Regions from separate parts of the Homo sapiens genome. Here all the other regions are linked to region 1. Evidence: fine-mapped QTL for protein levels in blood plasma. A gene starts in region 1. Each other region holds a variant in brackets. All regions are shown on one strand. Distances are between the middles of the regions.

Region 1 (7,090 bases):
TAATTCCAGCACTTTGGGAGGCCTAGGAGGGAAGATCACTTGAGTCCAGGAGTTCGAGACCACCCTAGGCAACATACGGAGACCCTGGCCTCTAAAAACAACAACAACAACAATTAGCCAGGTATGGTGGCGCACACCTGTAGTCCCTGGTACTTGGGAGGTCAAAGCAGGAGGTTCGCTTGAGCCCAGGAGCTTGAGGCTGCAGGGAGCTATGATCTCACCACTGCACTCCAGCCTGGGCGAAAGACCAAGACCTTGTCTCTAAAAATAATAAAATAATATTCTGCGGTAAGACCCCAGCTCTTTCAGAAAGTAGCTGCATTAAAAACTACTTGTCCCAGGAAACAGAGGGTCAGGAAGGACCGTAGCAACAGCCCAAGAGCCGAATGAGCACAGGGCCCTGCAGGGTCTGGGAGGCTCAATGTGTCCCCTGGAGGGACTAGAGTCCCAAACGGAAGTCAAAAATCTCAGGGCAAGTGGATCTGGACATGGAACTTTATGCTGGGGAAGGGGGTCAGAATGAAGTGCAGAAACAAGAATAATGCTAAAGGAAAAGATAATGCAGAAAATTCAGTTTTGCCTCCATTTTTTTTCTATCAAAGAGAATATACTGAAAAGAGCATTAGCACCAAAAAGAAAAATGGAAGGTCTGAATCACTGGCTCCTAAATGTGTGTCCTCTGCAAAACAGAACAGACAATTTAGTAACTTTATTTTATTATAAAATACTGAAAGAGTCAGGGTTTTGGTGTCCTAAGAAAGGGTGGGAAGAGGACTGGAGAGGAACAAACTCTGAGGGGGCAATGGGGAAGGCAAGTTCTTTTTCAGGCCCTTCCTACCCCCTTCTTCCCTGCAAAAGGACAGAGGAGGCCCTGATTGAGACACCTGGGGAGGAAACCCAAACAACGAAAAGTAAGGCCCAGGTGATATCAAAGTAAGACCTCAACAAGGTTCAAGAATCTGAGCAGCTGAACAAGGTGCTACCCAATGTATACCTAGGGCTCTATTTCTTTCAACCTTACTAACAGCAAAGCCTTTTTAAAGTAGTGCCTAATACTATTAGTTAAATCCTTATTTTGATACAGATTTTTTTGTTTCCCCTTCAGGACAGTTTCACTCTCGTCGCCCAGGTTGGAGTGCAATGGCGCAATCTCGGCTCACTGCAACCTCCGCCTCCCAGGTTCAAGCAATTCTCCTGCCTCAGTCTCCCAAGTAACTGGGATTACCAGCATGCACCACCACGCCTGGATAATTTTTGTGTTTTTAGTAGAAACTGGGTTTCACCATGTTGGCCAGGCTGGTCTCAAACTCCTGACTTCAGGTGATCCACCCACCTCGGCCTCCCAAAGTGCTGAGATTACAGGCGTGACCCACTGTGCCTGGCCCAGATTTTTTTTTTTTAATGAAGATATATACATTGAAAAGTACCTGAGTATAGCTCCGTACTGGTGGTCTACTTCATCCAGGCCCCTGACTGTGGCAGACACTACTCCACTATTCAAATTCCAACCCGAGACAGAGGGCCCAGGAAGAAAGACACGCGGCAGAGCAAGGCCAGCTCTCCTCTGCTACTTGCAGGCAGACTCCGGGTCTGGGCAAGTATCCTGGCCCTCTGAGTTAACGTGATATTAACAATCAGCCAGGCTCTTGACGCGGTTTCCTTCAAAGTTTTCACACCCCCACCCACCAGGTGCGCTAAGCTTTGGGTTTTTAAAATCTTGTTCATCTCCCAGAGTGTTTTAGCCATTGAGAGGGCCCTGAAAATAACAAAACCATCTCCTAGACACCTGCCCAGGGATGGGGGAGATGACGGGAGAGCCTGACTTAACAGATACTCTATAGGTTTCTATTTGGATGTCTATGTAAATAACCAGTCTAATTCTCAGCTCTCTGTGCTTAACATTCTACTGAGAACAGCTCTCTGGACCAAGCCGCTTCCCTGTCTGATGATGATCTCAGCAGGCATAGGTTGCACACACATGTACAAAGTCTGCTTTCCAGGACAGAAAGCCAGCTACTCAGCTGAAGCAACTGAGAGCAAACACCACCCTGAGATTTCAGGAGATGATGAACCCAGGAGTGCGAAATACATAGTTCAGAACTCCTCTGCGGTGTTATAACCGACATTACGGTGCCCAGTGTGTGTGGCTCTCCAGCGAGCCTTGCTTACTCTAAGTGTTGATGAATACAGTTAGGGTATGATGTACACAAACACCAGCCATAGTAACCAGAAGGCCCCTAGAACTTGGCCTCCAGCAGGAAGGAAATATGGGACTCTGCCTAAGTATGCTAAAGGGTTGCTGCAAGCCAAGGCCCGCGCAGGGGCTTCTGGAAGCTTCCTGGAGCAGCTGGCGGAGGGAAAGCTGGCAGCATGGAAGGGTAGGAAGAACCCGGGGCCCGGGCCTGGGGCTGGCACCTAGAGGTAAGGCAGGGGCTGCCACGACCCCCGCCACACGCCAGTCCACAGTCACTGCAGCGCAGCCTAGTCCAGGAACCCCAGGCCCGGGGAAAGGCTGGGCAACACCTGGGAGGCACTTGGGGCGCACCTGGAGCTCGCCCGGGATGGGTGGGGGTCAGGGCGGCCCCACACCCGACGGCGAAGTGAGGGCGCCTGCAGGACCACTCGAGGCTGCCACCGTCCCGAGGGAGAGCTCCGCACTCTTCCGGGAGCGAGGCGACCCAGACACTCACCAAGTCGCAAACGGTGCGCACCGCGAGGACCTGCGGGCGTCGGGACGCAAAGCGTTCTAGGGGCGCGGGCTGTCCCAGCATATCCGGGGCGCGGGGGCGGGGCCGAGGGGCACGGGGATGGCGGCGTGGGGCGGGGTCTAGAGCGGGGCGGAGCCGAGGACCTGAGAAAAGCAAGAGAGCGCGCGGGGGCGGGGCCGGGGCGCGCGGGGGCGGAGCTGGGGCGGAGCCCGGGAGGGGCGGGGTGTTCCCGCCCGACCGGGTCGGCGCATGCCCTGTGCGGCGGCGCCGGGCCTGAGGCAGTCTGCGCATCCTCGCTGGACGCCGGCACGCCGGCCCTGGTCCTCCGGCAGCGCCGCTGCCCTGTGCGCCTGACCCGGATGGCCCTTCGGCCGGTACAAGCCGGGCGGCGCCTTCCCAGCTTCCGCCTGAGGCTCTGTGCCTTAGTTTGCCAAATGGCCCGTACCTTTTCCTGTCACAGGGATAGTCCGCGGGCGTGCAAGCGACCTGCCACGTGCCCGAGTGGTCCTGAAAGCGCGCGGGGGTCGTAGGACGGCGCCCGCTTAGTGAGAATCCCGGTCCTGCTCGGGGCGGCTACGCTGAGCCCGGAGCGCGAGTCTCTCCCCTCCTGGTGCCGCTCCCCTAGTCAGGGACCCCCAGACCAGCAGAGACCCTGTCAGGGGGCCGTGGGGGCAGCCTCCAGGGCCTGTGGTGGGCGATGCCGTCCAGGGGCTGCAGTCACCGATGGCCTAGACACTGCCAGAGCCTGACTCAGCCGCTCTCCAGAGAGCACACAGGGTGCCAGGCCCTGCTTGGGGTTGTGTGGACGTTATTAGGAGTTGAATTGTGTCCACCAGAGAAGCTATGTTGGAGTCCTAACTCCCAGTACCTCACAATGTGACCTTATTTGGAGATGGGGACTTTACAGAAGCCATCAATTAGTGGGCCCCTCATCCAGTATGACTCGTGTCCTTATAGGCAGAAGGCCGCTTGGGGAGGAGGATTGGAGGGCTGCACCTGCAAGCCACCAGAAGCCTAAGAGGACAGACCCTTCCCTGGAGCCTTCGGAGGGAGCAGAGGACACTCTTCCCTGGAGCCTTCAGAGGGAGCAGGATCCTAACACACCTGGGTTTCAAACTTCTGGCCCCCGGAAGTGTGAGACAATAGGTTTCTGTTGTTTTAAGCCACTCAGTGTGTGGCACTTTATTATGGCAGCCCCAGGCAATGGGTACAGAAACCATTGTCTCTAACGTGGTTGGCATAAGCACCCCAGGGAGTAGTATCATCCCTGGAGGCTTCGGAGAGGTCACACACCCCTTGGCAGGATCCCATCCAAGGCCCACATGTTCTAAGCCACCATGCTACGGGCCTTCTAGGTTCTGTTTGTTATCTTAATGGAAAGGGGTCTTCACCTTCCCGGTGAAGTTTCCCTGTTGGGATTCGGCCAATGCTCATACCTTCGTATTTGTGACTTGCAGGATCCAACATATTAGCATGAGTGATAAGGGTTGTTCAGAGGAGAACTTCAGCAGGATTTGCTTTGGGATGAGCCCTGGTGACAATACAGGCTGCATCATTGATCCTCTGAGGTTCCCCACCCCGACCCTGCCTTGGATGAGACATGTTTTAAATAGCTGCTTGTGGGAAATAAACTAGGCCCTGAGTACACGATATAATGGTCAAATCAAGGCACTTTTTCCCCACTGAACCTGGACACAGCCTCGGAATCCTTCTCAACACTGTGTTCCAAGCAGCCATTCACATTTAAACTAATGTGGAAGGACAGATGAAACATGTTTGCCCTTGGCTCTGGTTTTTTCCATTAGCCTTCTATAAGACTTCGGGAAACTCGTCTGACTTCTCTAATCCTCAGTTTCATACTCTGTAAAGGAGTCTCATGATAACGTACCCTACGTGTGTACAAACTATCCTTCCATATTAGGGCATGTGTGCATAGGGAAAATAAACCACCAGCACCACACCACACTACTAAGAAATAATGCTATACACCTGGCCACTTACAGCCTGTTACTACCAGGACCCAGTTAGAACCGGGATCTTAATAGAACCAAAGGAAAAACAATGCCGAAATGGAATCAGAGTGCCGACTGATATTCTAACAAGTGTGCTGTTAAGTAGTTTTGCAGTTAACACATGACTCATACGTTTATCTGAATAATATTTTAAGACGAATCCCTAAACTCTTAAGAAAAAGAGACTGGCCAGTCTTAGCATCTCTAATTCCCCACCCTAGGAAAGAAAGGCCAATGTGGTCATCCAAAGGCCCTTTAGGAGGGCCCTGTGGGAATGGGGAGGCGGTCCACGAGAGAAAGTGCTGGCTTCCCAGGGAGATGTGTGGACCTGGCCCTGGCTGTACTGAAAGAACTCAGTCCCCTTGCTGGCGTGGTGGGAAGAACTATGTGAAGGGCCACAGCTACTTCAGTGGTAAGGACTGTGTCAGGGGCTCCAGGATCAGGAGCCAAATAAGGGTCTCAGTGCAGAGGGGAAAGAGGAAAAAGGCCACCACCTGACCAAGGACTGGCCTGCAAAAGACCAGGATTCAAGGATGTGACTGCTTAGGCTGTCTGATGAGCAGAACTCAAACTCACACTCCTTACACCTGCTGGTGCAAGCTCCTCCCTTCATCATGGTAATTTCAAAAACCCAAGTTTTCATCAAGAGCTCCCCACGCCTCTCCCCCTTGTCCCATTACAATCTCATCATCGCCTGTGTGTTCGTCCTACTGTTAAAGGAACACAGGATGGCTCCAAAGCCGGGAGGTCGCCGGGTCCACTGAAGAGTAAGGAACACAGGACAGGGAGGCTCGGATGTGGTGCCAGCCCTGCCCCTCACTGAGCAACCACCTGACTTCTCTGTTCATAGGATGACAGTGCAGGACTGGTTGGGTGAGATTCCTTTGAGGTCTCCCATCTTCAGATTAACAAATCACAACCCCTTTTCCTCCAGACACAGATTCCTATGAAGAACTTTTTACAAAAGAGGTGGGAAAACCACAAAAGGGTATGCTCAACTGCAGTCCGACTTCCTCAAGGAGCTCCCTGGATTTCCTTTAAGATCAGCCAGCTTTCTTGTGGGCACTGGGAACAATGTTAATCTGCATAGTTTCTTTAAACATCCAAATGGATACCTTTCGGGTTAAGCAAATGAACATGACATGCGATTGCTTCTAATGATTTGCAACCCAAGAAATTTGTTTAATAAGCCTGTCTTCCCAAGCTACTTTTGTGACATTAGAGACCACTTACAACAAAGCTGCCTTCAGTAGTCAAACTTAATCCTTACTACCCTACCTTTGGGAAATGAAGGGATTTTATAACGATCACATAAAACCTTATGTGGTTTGAAAGCCCCAAACTCCGGACAAATGTGTGATGGTCGTGTAACAAAAGAAACATATTACAGAGCTCCCCACGTTAAGTGTTTTACATATAGTTTGCTTTTAGGATAGCATCTCAAGTGGAGGGTTTTGCTGATTAACACAATTGATTTTCTTAGTCCCAGTGTTCCTGTAAATGTTGGAGCCAAGAGCTGGAGTCAGCGCCTTGGACCTGGGAGAGGCCAGGAGGCCAGGGAGCCTCAAGCACTCTGGAGGAAGAAGCCTGAAATGAAAAGGTGGGGGCCATCGGTACCGGGGTTGAATGCCAGGTGCTTCTGATTACGCTCCTGTGTGACACTAGTTGTCAGCATGGCAGAGGCATCATGGTGTAACTGCAGCAGGGAGTGTAATCTACTAGTGGGCAGGAGAGAGGGCGGGAAGGAGGGACTTCAGGCTTTGCCTCACATAGAGGGTAAGGGAATGGTGCAGGGTGGAGAAAGGGGATGGAGGTGCAACTAAAACAGGAGGGGCTCCTTAGCTCTTGCTTTCCTCCAAAGAGGCAGAACATCCTCCTGCCAGGAGCCCCTGGGAGCTCCTGTTGAGAACTGGAACCCTTCAGGCCCTTTTGTGTCAAGAAGGGCATGGAGGAGAATTCCTAAAGAAACGAACCAGAGGCAGCCCACAGACTCCTATTAGAAAGACTTTTCCTGAAACTTCCTTTGCCAGTTTGTGGGTGCAGGGCCTGGAGATGGATTTATGGGACTCGTTGCAGGCCCCTGTGGGGCTTGTAGTGGAATGGCACACAGATGAGGAAATAGTTTGCTCTCTGGAGCAGCGACCTCTACCCAGGAGATGCGTAGGGGCAGTGGGAGTACGAAAGAGGCCCTTTCCTGCACTGACTGTCCCTGCAGGAAGCCCTTTCTTTTTTTTCTTTTTTTTTTTTTTCTCTTTTTCTTTTTTTGAATTGGAGTCTCTCTCTGTCGCCTAGGCTGAAGTACAATGGTGCCATCTTGGCTCACTGGAACCTCTGCCTCCCGGGTTCAAGTGATTCTCCTGCCTCAGCCTC
Region 2 (7,090 bases), 240 kb before region 1:
TGGACAGCTCAGCTTTCCTCTTAATCCCTTCAGCAGAACAATGAGGCTTCCTTCCAGAGCCTCAGCGCCCTCCCACTGGGAAATCCCACCTGTCCCAACCTCACAATGAGGCAGCCCCGGGGACCTCCGGACACCCGGTCGGGAAAGGCAGCTTCACTGTCCCTTGGCAGAAATACTTCAACAGCTACCTAGCTACTAACCTGTCTTTGGAAATTCCCCAAGATAAGAAGTTGAACCATCTGAAATTTCTGGTATTTGATAAGTTTTAACCTAAAAAATAGCAATTTCATATGGTTCAACGTAATGCATATTTTTGTGGTTAGCCTTAAAAAGCAAATCACAAACAGCATGTTCGTTCCAGAGAGGAATCCTGGAAGGTGAGGTGGTACCGCGAAGAGGCCGTGTGCAGGAGAGAGGGTCTTTCAGCAGCAGGACAGGCCTGAGGAAGGGATGAGGGCTTGGTACTGCGCAGTCAGAAGTTTTACCAGCCAGGCCTTCAGAAAGAAATGGTCAATGTGCTGGAACTCAAGGATGAGCTCAAATACAATCACATTTTTAAAAATGTTGACATAGACAAACCAGGTTGAAATAGATAAACCTGGTCTCAATCTCAGAAGTGAGACTATGGTGAAAAATGATATGCAAAAGTATGTTAAACATATACAGAAATTAAAATGTGCAGAAAAAGGAATTGGTCAAGGAAATGTTCATTCCATGTTACAATGGACCCGCTCCTCTCAGTCTGCAAAGCAGGTTGATTTCTGTTACTCCACAGCTTCCAGGCGGCTCTGAGATGTCAAAAGACTTTTCCTCTAGAAGACCTGCCCCCTCACTGTTGATTTCACTGATGTTACAAGATAACAACCTGGACAGAGAGCAAACCAAACTCATGCCAGACAGAGAGGGGCGTATCCACATCTGGGAGAACCAATTAACTCCCTGTTAGCAACCATCCACCATCCACCTCCCCTTCTTCAAACAGTAAAATCCATACACCTGGCCCCTGCCCAGGAGTAAACGATTGAGCTAAATGTTAAAAACCTGGCTTACACATGCTGTGGTGGGGAATCCCAGCCCCCACAGCAACCACTAACCATCCGCAGGCAGGCCTGGCCCAGGGGACTCCAGCCCCTACCCTCGAGAGAAGGCCCTGAGCTCAGCACCCTGGGTCTGCAGCCAGCCTCAGAGTTCTAGAACACCAAGAGAGAAGGATGTGAGCGGCTGTCGCACTACCATCCCAAAACTTGGCTGGAGTGGACCTCGTCCCAGCTAGAGGTATCCACCCGCACTGTAGGGCTTTCCAAGAGGGGCAGGGCCACGGGGGAGCCAGACAGCCTTTACCAGTATCCTGGCGGCTACTCTGAGGTCTTCCTGGTCACCAAGACCTATCATGACCTGCCAGCCCAGGAAGCAGCCTGGCCTGGCGTGGGCTGAAAGCCAGGGAGGCAGGGGTAGGTGTGGCCAATCCCAACTCTGCTTAAGCACTAGGGACTTGACTGAGAAGCCCCAGGGGCCCGCCTGTCCTCGGCTCTAGGAGCAGCAAACACTGCCATGGGCAGAAGTGAGGGGGAAAAGGCTCAGCGGGGGTTCAGTGCTTGCAGGGGTGGTTTGGAGAGTGTCTGATTATTTCCGGTGCCACCTTCCTTGCTGGCCACTCCTGCCCTGGAGCTCCTGTCAGCAGCTGCGGAGGCCTCCTCCTCCGGTTCTTCCTGGCCTGCCTGAGAGCACACCACTCTCTGGACCCTGGTGAGACCAGGCCAGCAGGGTCTAGCTCCATGGCCAGGGCCACCATATGACTTGGAGAAAACTAACGATTTTCATGGAACTTTTGCCCCTATGTTTTTCATGAAGTTGCCCAACAAACCTTAGGTAAACTTCAGGGGTTTGCAGGCTCATTCTCCCAGCCTCCATATGATTATGCAGATACCTCCTGCCCTGGTTTTGTAAGAGAACTTTTCTGTCCTGAGACCTTACATTTCAGCTCACATATTTCACAGGCTTAAGGAGAAGAAAAGCCTCTGGACAGCTCTTCAGCCTTGCTCCTCCTGGCAGGCGAACCCCCAAAAAGAGATCGTATAGAGAAGAGTTCACCACTCTAAGATCCCCAAGCCCCAACTTTAATAAACAAAACCAATCTCTGACTTCCTTGGGCCATTCAGCAACATCCTGCCCTGTGCCCGGCCCATCAGGTGCACAGTGAGCAAGGTCCCCCACACCGTCTAATTGGCTCACTGGCTTGTGGCGCTGGGGAGAGGTGGCCCCCAGCTGGCGGCAGCCCAGGAGGCTTTGGTAGTGCCTTTGTCCTGGCAGCAGCCCATTGGTGGGCAGAGATGATGAGAGGTTTCTTGGACGTTTGTGGTTCCATGTAAAGGCCCACCCACTCTAGCTTCCTATCTGCCCATCCTAGAGATCCCCACTGAACCCTTCTGGAGACAGTTCTGTATGATTCAGAGGACAGCAAGGTGCCTGGTTCATTATAGCTGCACAGCTTCAGTTCATTATGCACAAAACGTGCTCATGACTTCATATGTTCGCCTGTCTGACTTGGTTAGTGAACTCAGGTATTAGCCCAACCTTCAGGGGTTTCTTTACCTGCTTCCCTTGAAAAGTTCTCTCCATTTTCAAGTTTGTTTTGTGCTGAGAAGCACCGCAGCAATTAGAATACTGTTAAGCTTACCCAGCAAATCTGATCTGAAATTCAAAATTGCTTTAAATTCACCACATCTAAAATCTCAAGGTAATTTTTCCCTTTAAGGATATATAAGTGTACAACTCCATATATACATCATATATGAATATATGTTCATTTATACACAAAAATGATTATGAAAAACTCACTATGCAAAATAAATTTCTGGCATGTGTCTGGAATGATTTTAGTTGCTGTAATTAATTTCTGTATTGAGCAGAGCCAAACACAAGCTTTAAAAGAAATGTCTGGGAAATGTTTTAGATTATCACAAGCCTTAAGCAGGCTACATACAGGTAAGTTCTCAAGTCATCTCTTAAGAAAGAATATGTCTAACTCTGGTACGTTTGAGAAATTAAATGTAAAATTATTTGAGAAGCTCCAATGCTGCTACCTGCTATGATGTAAGTGTCACCAACAGAGTGTATGGAAATAGCTAAATGTCCACGCACAAGTCTCGTTTTCTGTGCTGTTGGCAAGCAGATAGTTGAAGTTCACAATAAGCTTATTGAAAAATTTACTGCCATTCAGATGTGTTCCTATTTAAACCTTTCAGCCAGCGAGAGTCAAGAGTCGATCTGCATGCTTCATTTTTATTGCCTTTGCCAAGAATTATGCAACCCTGTGCCAAAACTAACACAAGTGTTGGAGTGGGTGGAGGCGGCGAACCCCCGTCCCTCCAGCTCGGCCAAACGCTGCCTCTGTTTAGCTGATGTAAAAATACCAAGTTGGTATACTCAATAAAATGAACTGTGATGTCAGCGATCGTTAATAAGTCAAGCTCCCCAAAGGAAACACCGCAGATGGCTTAGTTACCGACCTTGCTGGAAAACGGGATGGTGAA[G/A]AGCCGGCACGGGGAACTCTTCGATAGCCTCGGGCTGGTGGAAATAGGCATTCAGCCAGGCTGTGCACTGCATCAGGGGCTCCGGACCTCCGAGAACCGCAGCGGGGGCTGGGACCTCCACGGCACTGCAAAAGTGAGAACAGGGGCTTAGTAAACCTCTGGGCCCTGCCTCCACACATCGGAAAAGCAAACACCTACTGCATCTAAACGGGCAAACACCTGTGGCTGCTTCATGGGCACACACGTCTCAACTAGCTGTGCAGCAGAAAGGGGGACTGGTGAGGCAAGGACGCACCGAGGCCCCGCAACCACTCTCCACCTTCAGGCCTCCCAGGACGTGTGTTCTGAGAGTCTGCATCACAGCGCAAGGCAACCCAAGTGACAGTGTCCCTTTGTAAGACTTACAGATGGCACGGCTGCACCTAAATCATCAAGCACTCACTATTGAAAACAGTTCCCAGAAATATCGACACAGTCATTAGACTGCACCACACGGCCCACCCCACCCCGAGTCCAACAACGCAAGGCCACATCCACGCGTTCTGCCTCCTCCATGGCCGTGTGCTGTGTTCAGGGGATTCCTCAGGGTTTACCTGCAGTCCCCTGATTCCCACGCTCCAGAGGGCCTACTCTGTGTTTCCTTCATCGGTGAGTCTGTCCTCTCGGGGGCAGCCCTGTGCCTCGTGTGCCTGTGTCTACTTGGTTCTTTCTCAAACCTTCCTGGTGTTTGTTTGTTTGTTTTGAGACGGAGTTTTGCTCTTGTTGCCGTGGCTGGAGTACAATGGCTCGATCTTGGCTCACTGCAACCTCCATATCCCGGGTTCAAGTGATTCTTCTGCCTCATCTTCCCTAGTAGCTGGGATTACAGGCGACTGCCACCACGGCCAGCTAACTTTTTGTATCTTTAGTAGAGATGGGGTTTCTCCATGTTGGCTTCATCACGTTGGCCAGGCTGGTCTCGAACTCCTGACCTCAGGTGATCCGCCCGCGTGGGCCCCCCAAACTGCTGGGATTAAAGGTGTGAGCTACTGCGCGGCCCTCTTGGTTCTTTCTGGACACTCTCCTCCCTTTGATTTCCTGCAGTTTGAACCTGTACCTCTGGGAGTCGCTTCAGACTGTTTTGTGGCTGCTTCTGTTTGGGGTGTTCATTCATCTGTGGCTTCGACCTGGTGGGCCCTCATGGAAAGGATTCCCCATCTCCAGCAGGGGTGGATTTTCTGGGGCTGTGTTCCACGGACTGAGGACATGGCCCTGAAGGGGAGGTCTCCCGCTGCCACCTGGGGCTGTGGAGTGCATGACACATCCCGTTGTGATTTCAAGTGCTGTGGACCCCCGTGGGAAGCCCTGGCCCTGGGTCCGATTTCTTCAGGTGACTCCCTTCCTTCCTTCCCTGCCTCTCGAGGCCCCAGACAAACGGCATGCTTCCCCGGGACTTCCCAGGCTTGGAGCACGGAAGTTTTCTAGTTTCCTTCTGCAGACAGTGCTGCTCCTCAGGCTTCTGTGAAAAGGTGGGAAACGTCACTGCACTGTGGATGCTGTGGACGCACAGCTCCCGCGGGCCCTTCACCCTTCCTTCCTGGGCTGCCTTGGGGGGCGTGCGCTGAGATCTACAGAATGTTTCTCCTCGACACACCCATGCTGCTCTGGGAGGGTCCCAGTGAAGGCTTCACTTGCCTGGACATGTGGCCCAGCACAGGCGGCCGATGCAGCCGGGAGCACCGTCCCAACTCTGTCCACACAAGGTATGCACGGCCAGTCCATGGAGAGGAGGCAACAGAGCCATCCCGGACGTAGGACAGACAGTGTGAACGTAGACGCAGAGTGGAGGCCTCGGGGACTGAGACTCACAGAAAGGTGGGCAAGGACTGTGCGTGTCAGGGCGGGAAGGGCACTTTGTCCTATGAGTGCGGCCCACAGTGTGACTGGTGGGGGCTGGGGGCCCCTGGCAAGAGGCAGAAGGCACCGCAGCTGCCCTGACGCAGGGCTGCAGCAGTAAGAACATGGCAATGGTGCAGGGAAGAGCTGGAGGACCATGAAGCTGGGGTCAGGGATGACTCTCAGCTCCAACCCCAGCTCTGTGCGGATTCAGCCTGTCTGCCCGGCCCTGTGTGGATGGGGCTGTTGCCCTGGCCCCGTGCTGATTCTGCTGGTCTCCCTGGCCTTGTATGAATGAGGGCCTGTCTCCTGGGCCCCGTGCAGAAGGGGACCTGTCTCCCCAGCCCTGTGTGGATGGGGCCTGTTGCTACCGCTGGTGTCCAGGAGGACCACAGCCCCGGAGCTGCAAACAACTGGCATTTCACTTTGTATCACAGAATTGGAGGCTGTTTTAGAAAAGAAGATGTAGTCACAACTTCTTAAAACACCTTCACACAAAGAGCTCAGATGATCTCTGGAGCGATTAGTTCTCGCTTTTCCTGTGAGGTAAAAACCAAGCTTGTACAAATCTGAATAAAGTCAAAAGTACATAATGAGGCAAGAGATAAAAGGAAGCCGAACACCTTCCTTATAGTTAAAAAGGTTTCCTCTCTTATGCAGTTAAAGCGGAAATAAAGATAACTATAGCTTACACGTCTAGTTAAACAAACACAGCCTTTCGTGTTTTGGGTTTGTGTTAAAGATGATACAAATTACTTTGGCTTAAAGTGTACTGTGGGCGGAAATACCCTGGCACATCCATTCAGAAAAGAAACCAGGGCCTCAGCAGCACGAACCTCTTTTGCATTCCATCTGGGATACTCACATTTTAACAAGAGACAATTAAAAACGGCAAAGCTGGGATCTAAAGTTCTGGAGCTTCTGCCTGAGTAAATGCCTATGGTGGCGTTTCCATTTCCCCAGAAGACAGCAGACATGCCCAGGGGCACACACGGCCATGGGCCTGCGTCTGCGACATCTACAGTGCGTGGTGACACCATGACCAAGCCCACGGGGCGGCAGGGAGAAGCTAAGGAGAGGCACAGAACTGCACCCGTGTTGTTATTTTCGTGTGGAGCGGTGCTTGCCTTCCATTGTTGGGGGAGATGTGGGGGAAAGAGACCCAGTGAAGGGTGTGTCCAGGGTTACTTCGCTTTGAGGTCCTGCAGGTGCAGAAATGTGCATGTCATCCGACAGCAGGGGCGGCGACGGAAGACCTCGGGCCAGTCTCACACGCTGTCCTGTGCTGGAGGCTGGGTCTCTGGGCTGGAGCATTTTGTGGGTGTAAAAGTCTCTGCCGAGATCCTCGGGTCTTTCTAAAAATGGACCTTTTTGGGTGAGATGCACATAGGGGCCCCCATACACTGTTTTTCACGGTGGAGCAGGAGGGTGGTCAGAGGTTTCCAAGCACACAAATCCTGACGGTTTTAAGGAAGGAGCCAGAGAATGAAGGGAAAAAGAAGGAAGCTCACTAGGATGACCGACAGCCACGGATAACTGTGACCAGCAGTCGGACCTGTGAACCAAGCCCAGCAGAGCCGGCTAAATTACGCTGACCCCGTGGACACTGCGGCCAGACAGAACATGCCCCGGTCTTCTCCAAACTGCCGCCTTACCCAGATCCCTGCCCAAGGGAACTCACG
Region 3 (7,090 bases), 190 kb before region 1:
CCCACACCTTAGCCTCTGAAGAAATGGCTGCAGGACGCCTTCCAACTAGAACCCCTGAGACAGACCACAGGCGAACAGCACTCGCCCATCCGCCGAGATACCACCCCATGCTATCAAAAAGGTTAATGTAATACTTTAACTGCAAAAAGATTTACACCAGCACGTGTTCTGGGAAATGAAAAAGAAGGATTAATAAATGAGTGCTCAGAAACGAAACCACAATTGGCAGGGAGATGAAAAATCAGAATGGGGTAAAAGTGACAGGAGAGAAAGGAGGAAGTTATAAACTTAGCTCTGAAAAGACAAATGGCTGTTGGAATTGGCAGTAAAAAACCAAAATGTCGCAAGAAATAATTGTTCATTATTTAGAAGAAAAGCACCAAAGACCACGCAAATCCTTCACTGCACGGGTGATGAAAGAGAAAACACGGCCTCATCTTCCAGCATCTACTAATGCCATAGAGAGCTGGGGAGTGGGGCAGGGATATTCGGATGACCACCCTACGTCCTGTCGCCCGTGCCCAAACATCAGGTGCTGGGCATCCGCCATTACTCAATTTCAAAGGCAATCTTTAAGGAGGACTTTGGTTCAATTTAGACTTTTACTTCTGTTTTCGTGTCAGTCTATAAATGTCAGAACACTTTTTCTAAAGTTTAATACTGTTCCAGAAAAGCTCTCCTGGCAGCTACTCATGGAATATTTTCGGGCTAAACTGCTCTTCAAAATTTCACACAGTCATTCATCTTCAGGGCCTTTGTACATGCTACTTCCTCACCCCTCAATTTGCACTAACTCATCATTAAATAATAATGCCAGTAGCCTCGGAACTAATATGCATGCTGTGTGACTTTCACTTCTGTTCTCATGAGCAGGTACAATGGCCTGTGTTCTCCAGAGAGCTTGCCATGAAGCTAACTCCCTTACGCCGTGGATAGAGGCAGGATCTGTTCTATCTCCAGCCAAACGCATTTAGAAAACAACCCAGGCAGAGACAGCTACATCTGAGTATCTTTTTTTTTTTTTTCCACACAGGGAGTCTCGCTCTGCCACCCAGGCTGGAGCGCAGTGGTGCGATCTTGGCTCACTGCAACCTCCGCCTCCCAGGTTCAAGCAATTCTCCTGCCTCAGCCTCCCGAGTAGCTGAGACTACGGGTGTGCACCACCATGCCCAGGTAAGTTTTGTATTTTTAGTAGAGATGGGGTTTCACTGTGTTGGCCAGGCTGGTCTCGAACTCCTGACCTTAGGTAATCCACCTGCCTCGGCCTCCCAAAGTGTTGGGATTACAGGTGTGAGCCACTGCACCCGGCCTTGAGTATCTTCTGAAACAACATGAAGTCATCAGAACCAAGGATTTTTTTTTGTTATTGTTGCAGCCACAAAATCCAAAGCTAGTGTATTAAGATAACATTGAATGGTACCTATGCCACAGATGGAGCTAAAATGTATACAAGAAATTACAGCGACACCTGGGAGGCCTTGAATGCTACAGCTTACAGTAGCCTACAGGGGGCGTTTTCAGCCTTAGGGTTGGGCACGCGAGCTAAGGGCGAGAACAGCAGTTAAGGACACTGAGGAAGGGGCCATCTAGGCTTCAGGATGTTTGTAAACAGGCTGGAATCCAGCTAGCCAATCAGGTTAATACATTATGACACAGAAATGTGGTGTTAATTTCATTTCAATCAACTAAACTTACTTTCTTGCGAAGATAATTTCTTCCAGGACATGTCAAATCACTGCAGAACTCCAGGATGTGGTGAGCTCCCTTGCTTTTAAAGAGCAGGCTGGGCTTCAATTCTCAAAGCATGATATTAGATATTTAGATATGTGAAAAACTCACTGACGTTAATGGGAATAACATGGACTTTCAAAGCAAGATTTCAAAATGTTGGGGTTAAAAATCCTACTGAATTAGAATCAAATAAGTCTCTAAGAAATACTGGCAAGCTAACGCAGTGCATACCAGGCGTGCTCTGAGGGTCACCTGTCATTCAGCATTTTGGTGTTGCTCTCAATGCATATTTTATAAAACAAATAGAGTAGCAAATCCCTGTGTCTGTTTTAAGGTGGCAAGGCAAGGCGACGCTGTTCGTCATTAGTCAATAATAGAGCTGTGTTAGTCTAATGGTGCCGCTCTCCCTCCCTTGCAGACCTCCAGGGCAATCACCTGTAGAATTATCCCATCTGCTGCAGCGGGAGCCAGAAGCCCGTCTTCCATTTTAGTTCCTTACTTGGGATTCATAGAAGGGGGAAAAAACTCCACAATTAGGTCTTTCAAGAAAAAGAAAAGAAGCAAAAACAAAACAGCATAATAGGACCAGGGAGATCACCTTTAGGTTTTGAAAGACCCCCAGAGATTTGATGATCTTTGGGGGATGGGGGAGAACTACCAATCTCAACACCACATTAAATATACATTTACGAGAATTTCCTCAGCCAAAGAAAATAGGATAGAGGTGCCAATTAGGGAAGGGCCGGTTCAGGCTTTGCACTCATGGGATGGGGGCTCCTCACTGGAGGGTGGCAAATCCTCCCATTCCCAGCATCTCCATGACAACGGGGGCCTCATGAAGTCAGGCCACACTGCTAAGGGTCAGTGTGATGACTCCACACACGCTAAGAGGCCGCAGTCCTTGTGGGTCCTTGGGGGAGAGGGGGTGTGTGTGTGTGTGTGTGTGCGTGTGTGTGTGTGTGTGTGTGTGTGTGTGTGTTGGAGGAGCTGGCCAGCCTGTCCCCCCCCCAGCTCCAGCTCCTCCTCCAGGCTGTCAGAGGCCATTTCTTCAGCAGTCACCACATTTAAAACTCACCCCATCCCTCCTCCCTGCTTTAGAATTCTCCAAGACACTGACCAGCACCTGACTTTGAACTGTATTTTACCTGTTTCTTCTGTCTCACGCCTGCCCCACCTCCACCCCCAGACAAGACAAGGGGCGCCTCAGGGCAGGGTTTATCTGTTTTGTTTGTTGCTCCCCCCCCCACCCCCACAATCCCTAGAATGCAGGAGGTCCTTGCTAAGTATTTGTTACATTAATTAAAGGAAGCTGGTAGATTTCTGGCCTATTTCACAATTACTTGCCAATAAACAGTCACATACATGTGTATTCCTGAATTTTCAATGGAATGCATCAGATGGGTAGGAAAATCCCGATTCGAAGCACTTAAAACCAGCATGAGGAAAGGAAGCTAAGGGACAGTCGTCTGTGTCAACTCTGGGCAGGTAAACACACTTAAATCCCCAAGACAGGGTATCTGTCCCCAAATGAAACACAATTTGCAGTCTATGGGATCTTTTACAGTTACTTAGAACTTGCTAAGTGGTTGCAAATCCCTAGCCTAATTCATAGAGCTCACCTAACTCACAGTCATTGTGGCAGCTTTAGATGTCTTAGAAAATGAAGTGCACTATTTTCGCTGCCTTCTGCGTGGAAGTTCTTTTGGGTTAAGAAGCCCGAGAGTTGGGTCTGAGACGTGTGGAAAAACCCTCCTCCCAGCATGAAAGGAGAACCTTGGGGCCCCCAAATTACTAATCTAAAGGGGAAAGTCAAGCTGGAAACTGCTCAGGGCCAACCTGCCTCCCGTTGTATTCAGTCATCCCTCTGCTCACAGAGAGAAAGACATCTCTGATTGCCTCCTTTGGAGAGGCTTATCAGAAACTCGGTGCAACCACTTGACTCTCACCTACCTGTGACCTGGAAGCCCCTTCCCTGCTTCGAGTTGTCCCTGCCTTTCTGGACAGAACCAATGTACTTCTTACATATATTAATTGATGTATCATGTCTCTCTAAAATCTATAAAACCAAGCGGTGCCCCGACCACCTGGGGCAC[G/A]TGTCATCAGGACCTCCTGAGGCTGGGTCACAGGCGCATGTCCTTAATCTTGGCAAAATAAACTTTCTAAATTAACTGAGACCATCTCAGATATTTGGAGTTCACACCAGAAAGGACATGCCGATGCTGCTTCCAGAGGCCTGGAAGTAGGCCCCACCCCTCCTCACCCTGCAGGAGGCAGTACCAAGGAACTCCCAGGGAGATGCCCAACCAGGAGCCCTCCCATGCTCGGGGCTGAAGCCCATGTTCACTGGGCAGATAGTGGCCACAACTGGTTCCCAAGAGAGGGGCTCTTGCTGCCCTCATGCCATGGATGTTTGTCACCTCCCGACTGCAGTCCAGACTCCACTGAAGATGAGTCCTGGGTGACAGCTTACATAGAACTGTAGTGCCATAGTCCTGAAGGGACTCCAGGAGGGGCACCGCACCAACTACCTCACCTCTCCTTGGCCTTTCACCTGGGTTCCCTGGAATCAACAGTCTGCATCTGTGATGTGTCTGGTTAATTCAGGGGTTGTCCGGTGAAGAGCTTGGCTAGCTGACCCTTCTGAGACCTTAGCTCAGTCCCCAGGCCAGGGCACCTCTGACTGCTGCCCGGCTAAGCTATCTGGGACCGCTGTTGCCAGTTTATTTAAACACGTGGAACTTCTCATCCACGTTCTTTCAGTGCAAAATCAGTGCCTGCTCTATATGGACACTGTGCGTTTCCTCCAGAAACACATGCGCTGTGTGTTTACCATGTGCTTTTGCAAGATTTAGAGAGCATGAGCATGAAGAGAAAATCCAAATCCATCCAAAGTGAAATTCCCTCCTGCTCACGTAACGACAACCCACAGCTATACTGAGGAACAGCTCCCTTCCTGCCTTCACTGTTAAACAGTGATTTTCATTTATATTTTTCTCCTTTTCAAGGGATTACAAAGTGTTTTACAAACTCATCCCTGTTTGTTTATGCCAGTCCCTCAGCCGGGCGAGTCACACACGAACATGCACAGAAGCCACGAGAGCTCTCCTGCAAGGGTCACAAGGAGACAACAAAGGTCTGGACGTTTAAAACTCAACGGGGAAGATTTTCCTGCTCTCCCCACCAGCTTCCGGGATGAGGCCCTCTAGAAGCGTCAGGGTCAGCGCCTTGGAAAATCAGACCTTAATGGGTTTTAAAAATGGTAATGTGTGAAAGAAATGTGTCTTCAACTGAGTCTAAAGACAGATAAACATTGACTTCCAGCCATGCAAACCACTTCTCCGCATGCTCGGAGGCGGCCCCTCCACACCAGGCCAGTGAGGCTGCTCAGGTCTTCACTCCTGGCAGACACACAGGAAACCACGGCAGTGCGCAGCCCTGCATCTGCCCAGGCCCTCCGCGGGGCCCCCACGGGACTGTGTCCCACCCCTACACTGGCTGGGGAATGGCTGCAGTGCTTTCTTTCCATGCATACCTCCGGGTGGGTGCACAAACGTCCTTAAACCAGGAGCACCTCGGTAGTGTGCTGACACCAGGGATGAGGGTGCAGCGGTCACCCTCTCCATCGAGCCTGAATGGTTTCCTCCCACTGCTGCTCCACAGGCACTTCCTTAGATGCAAGGAATTTGCAAAGACCATTATAAGTGATTTCCACTGATTTTCAGTGGGAAATCCCACTTCTCTGAGTTAGAAGAATAGTTTTCTTCTCAGGCATTTGTAGAAACAAGTGACCCACTGTGGCTTGTGCCGTCACATTCCAAATGCCCATACAGCCCCCCACCCTCAGGTATCACGTGTCATGACAAGGGGCCTAAGGTAGAGGTATGGGCAGGAGGGGGCCCTTGTCCTGCCTGCCAGGGCCAGACAAGCTTCCCGAGACCCCGGCCACCTTCCTCATACCTCAAGAGGCTTGCACACCCCTGCCTCCTCCTGTCTCTCCAGGGACTTACCCACCCATACAGGCCCTGTGCTCCAGGCAGCAGGTCCCTCACAGCCCTCCAAGCAGCCAGTGGGAATGGGGAATGCCCTATCTCAGCCCCCGCTGAGGCTGGTGTCTCGATCTGAGGTTCACAGTGACGGTCAAAGGATGCAGGCTCAGAGTGAGCAGGGGTATGTGATTTCTGTCCACTTAACACAATACCAAACTACATACTAAGGCACAGAAGGTAAAATATGAGCACCTTCTCTTCTACCACAAGAGGCTTCAAAGACATGGGAGAGTGTGGCAGGTGCCCGACCCCGCGTGCAGGTCCTCCAGGTCCCAGGCCTGTCTCTGTACCCGACCTGGGCACCTGCTCCACGCCCTGCACCCCTTTCCATCCTCGCCCTTCCCCAGCATGGATCTTCAGGTCTCTCTTCTCATGAAGCTGAGGTCTTGCCGTCTTCTCGGATCCCAAACCACAGATGGGCTACCTCACCATCCAGCTTCCCACCTGCATCTTTATCAGCACAGCTACTCCAGCTGCAAGGCGGGGGTCGGCGAGGCAGCCACCGAGGTGGGCAAGGACAGACAGGCGTGGAGGGTGCAGTAGTAGGGTGTGGCCCTCGCTCTGGGCCAGCTGTGCCCAGCACAGGCCGCAGTCTTGTCAAGGGGGAGGTGGGGTCTCCAAGCAGGGGTCTCTGAGGGCCACCAAGTTCTCCCCGCATCCCCAAAGGTGGCTCCACCTGGCCCCTTGACTGCAGGGCCGCTCTCCTCTCATCCCCAGCACAGGGTCCTCCTCATGCTTCTCCTGCCCCTAGCCCACCTGACACTCTTCACATCTGGAAATCTGTGCCCTTCATCCTAAACACCCTGGGCTGTGGGGCCTCAGTGATGCAGAAATAGCCTTCCCAGAAGGCTGTGACGGCCACCACGCTGTGCTTCCTGAGGCCTGTCCATTCGGCTCCCTGCCTCTTGTTTAGCAGAAGCATTGGCCATCACATGATGTAATCTTGCAAGCTGCCTGAGACATCTCATAGGGTGGGCCAGTCCAGTGCTGACCACAGTCAAGGGCCACCATCAGGGAGGCCACGTGAGGCCACTCCATTGGTGATCAGGGTCGGGTTTGCAGGCGTTACCCCTCCCACACGGGCCATCTCTGCAGCACCTCGGCCTGGGGGCCACTCAGTGTTTTGTAGAGGGAGCAGCCTTGATTAGTAATACACACACATGGCAATTACAGGATCACCTCAAATGGTTTCAGGATGGGTGTGAAACTGAGCAGTTACTGTTAGCAATAAATCCAGAGGATACTGGCCATCCTGAGGGGGTGGAAAATGATCAATGTTTTCAAATACAAAAGGACAGAGACTTAGGGATGCT

The links. PIP is the chance, under the fine-mapping model, that this variant and not a neighbour inherited with it causes the effect. Protein levels are from antibody-based Olink assays in UK Biobank. Linkage for the fine-mapping came from a reference panel and not from the study's own genotypes, which makes the PIPs less certain.
Region 2: its variant is fine-mapped to the plasma level of the MGMT protein (UK Biobank, PIP above 0.99). The variant lies in the coding sequence of MGMT. If it changes the protein, the assay may bind it differently, which can mimic a change of level.
Region 3: its variant is fine-mapped to the plasma level of the MGMT protein (UK Biobank, PIP 0.95).

The regions. Positions count from the first base shown.
Region 1 is chr10:129,462,897-129,469,986 of GRCh38, reverse strand. It overlaps MGMT (O-6-methylguanine-DNA methyltransferase), which reads right to left and starts at 2,746. Exons shown (of 5, transcript NM_002412.5): 1 at 2,691-2,746. RefSeq lists silencers at 2,447-2,646, 2,667-3,106 and an enhancer at 1,958-2,880.
Region 2 is chr10:129,704,463-129,711,552 of GRCh38, reverse strand. It overlaps MGMT (O-6-methylguanine-DNA methyltransferase), which reads right to left. Exons shown (of 5, transcript NM_002412.5): 3 at 3,510-3,658. It overlaps LOC105378560 (a long non-coding RNA gene), which reads right to left and starts at 3,503. Exons shown (of 2, transcript XR_946467.3): 1 at 1-3,503. RefSeq lists an enhancer at 1-302. The variant G/A (reference allele first, on the strand shown) is at 3,534.
Region 3 is chr10:129,653,295-129,660,384 of GRCh38, reverse strand. All of the region lies in intron 2 of MGMT (O-6-methylguanine-DNA methyltransferase), which reads right to left. Among named protein-coding and RNA genes, the nearest start is that of MIR4297, 190 kb to the left of the region's middle. The variant G/A (reference allele first, on the strand shown) is at 3,825.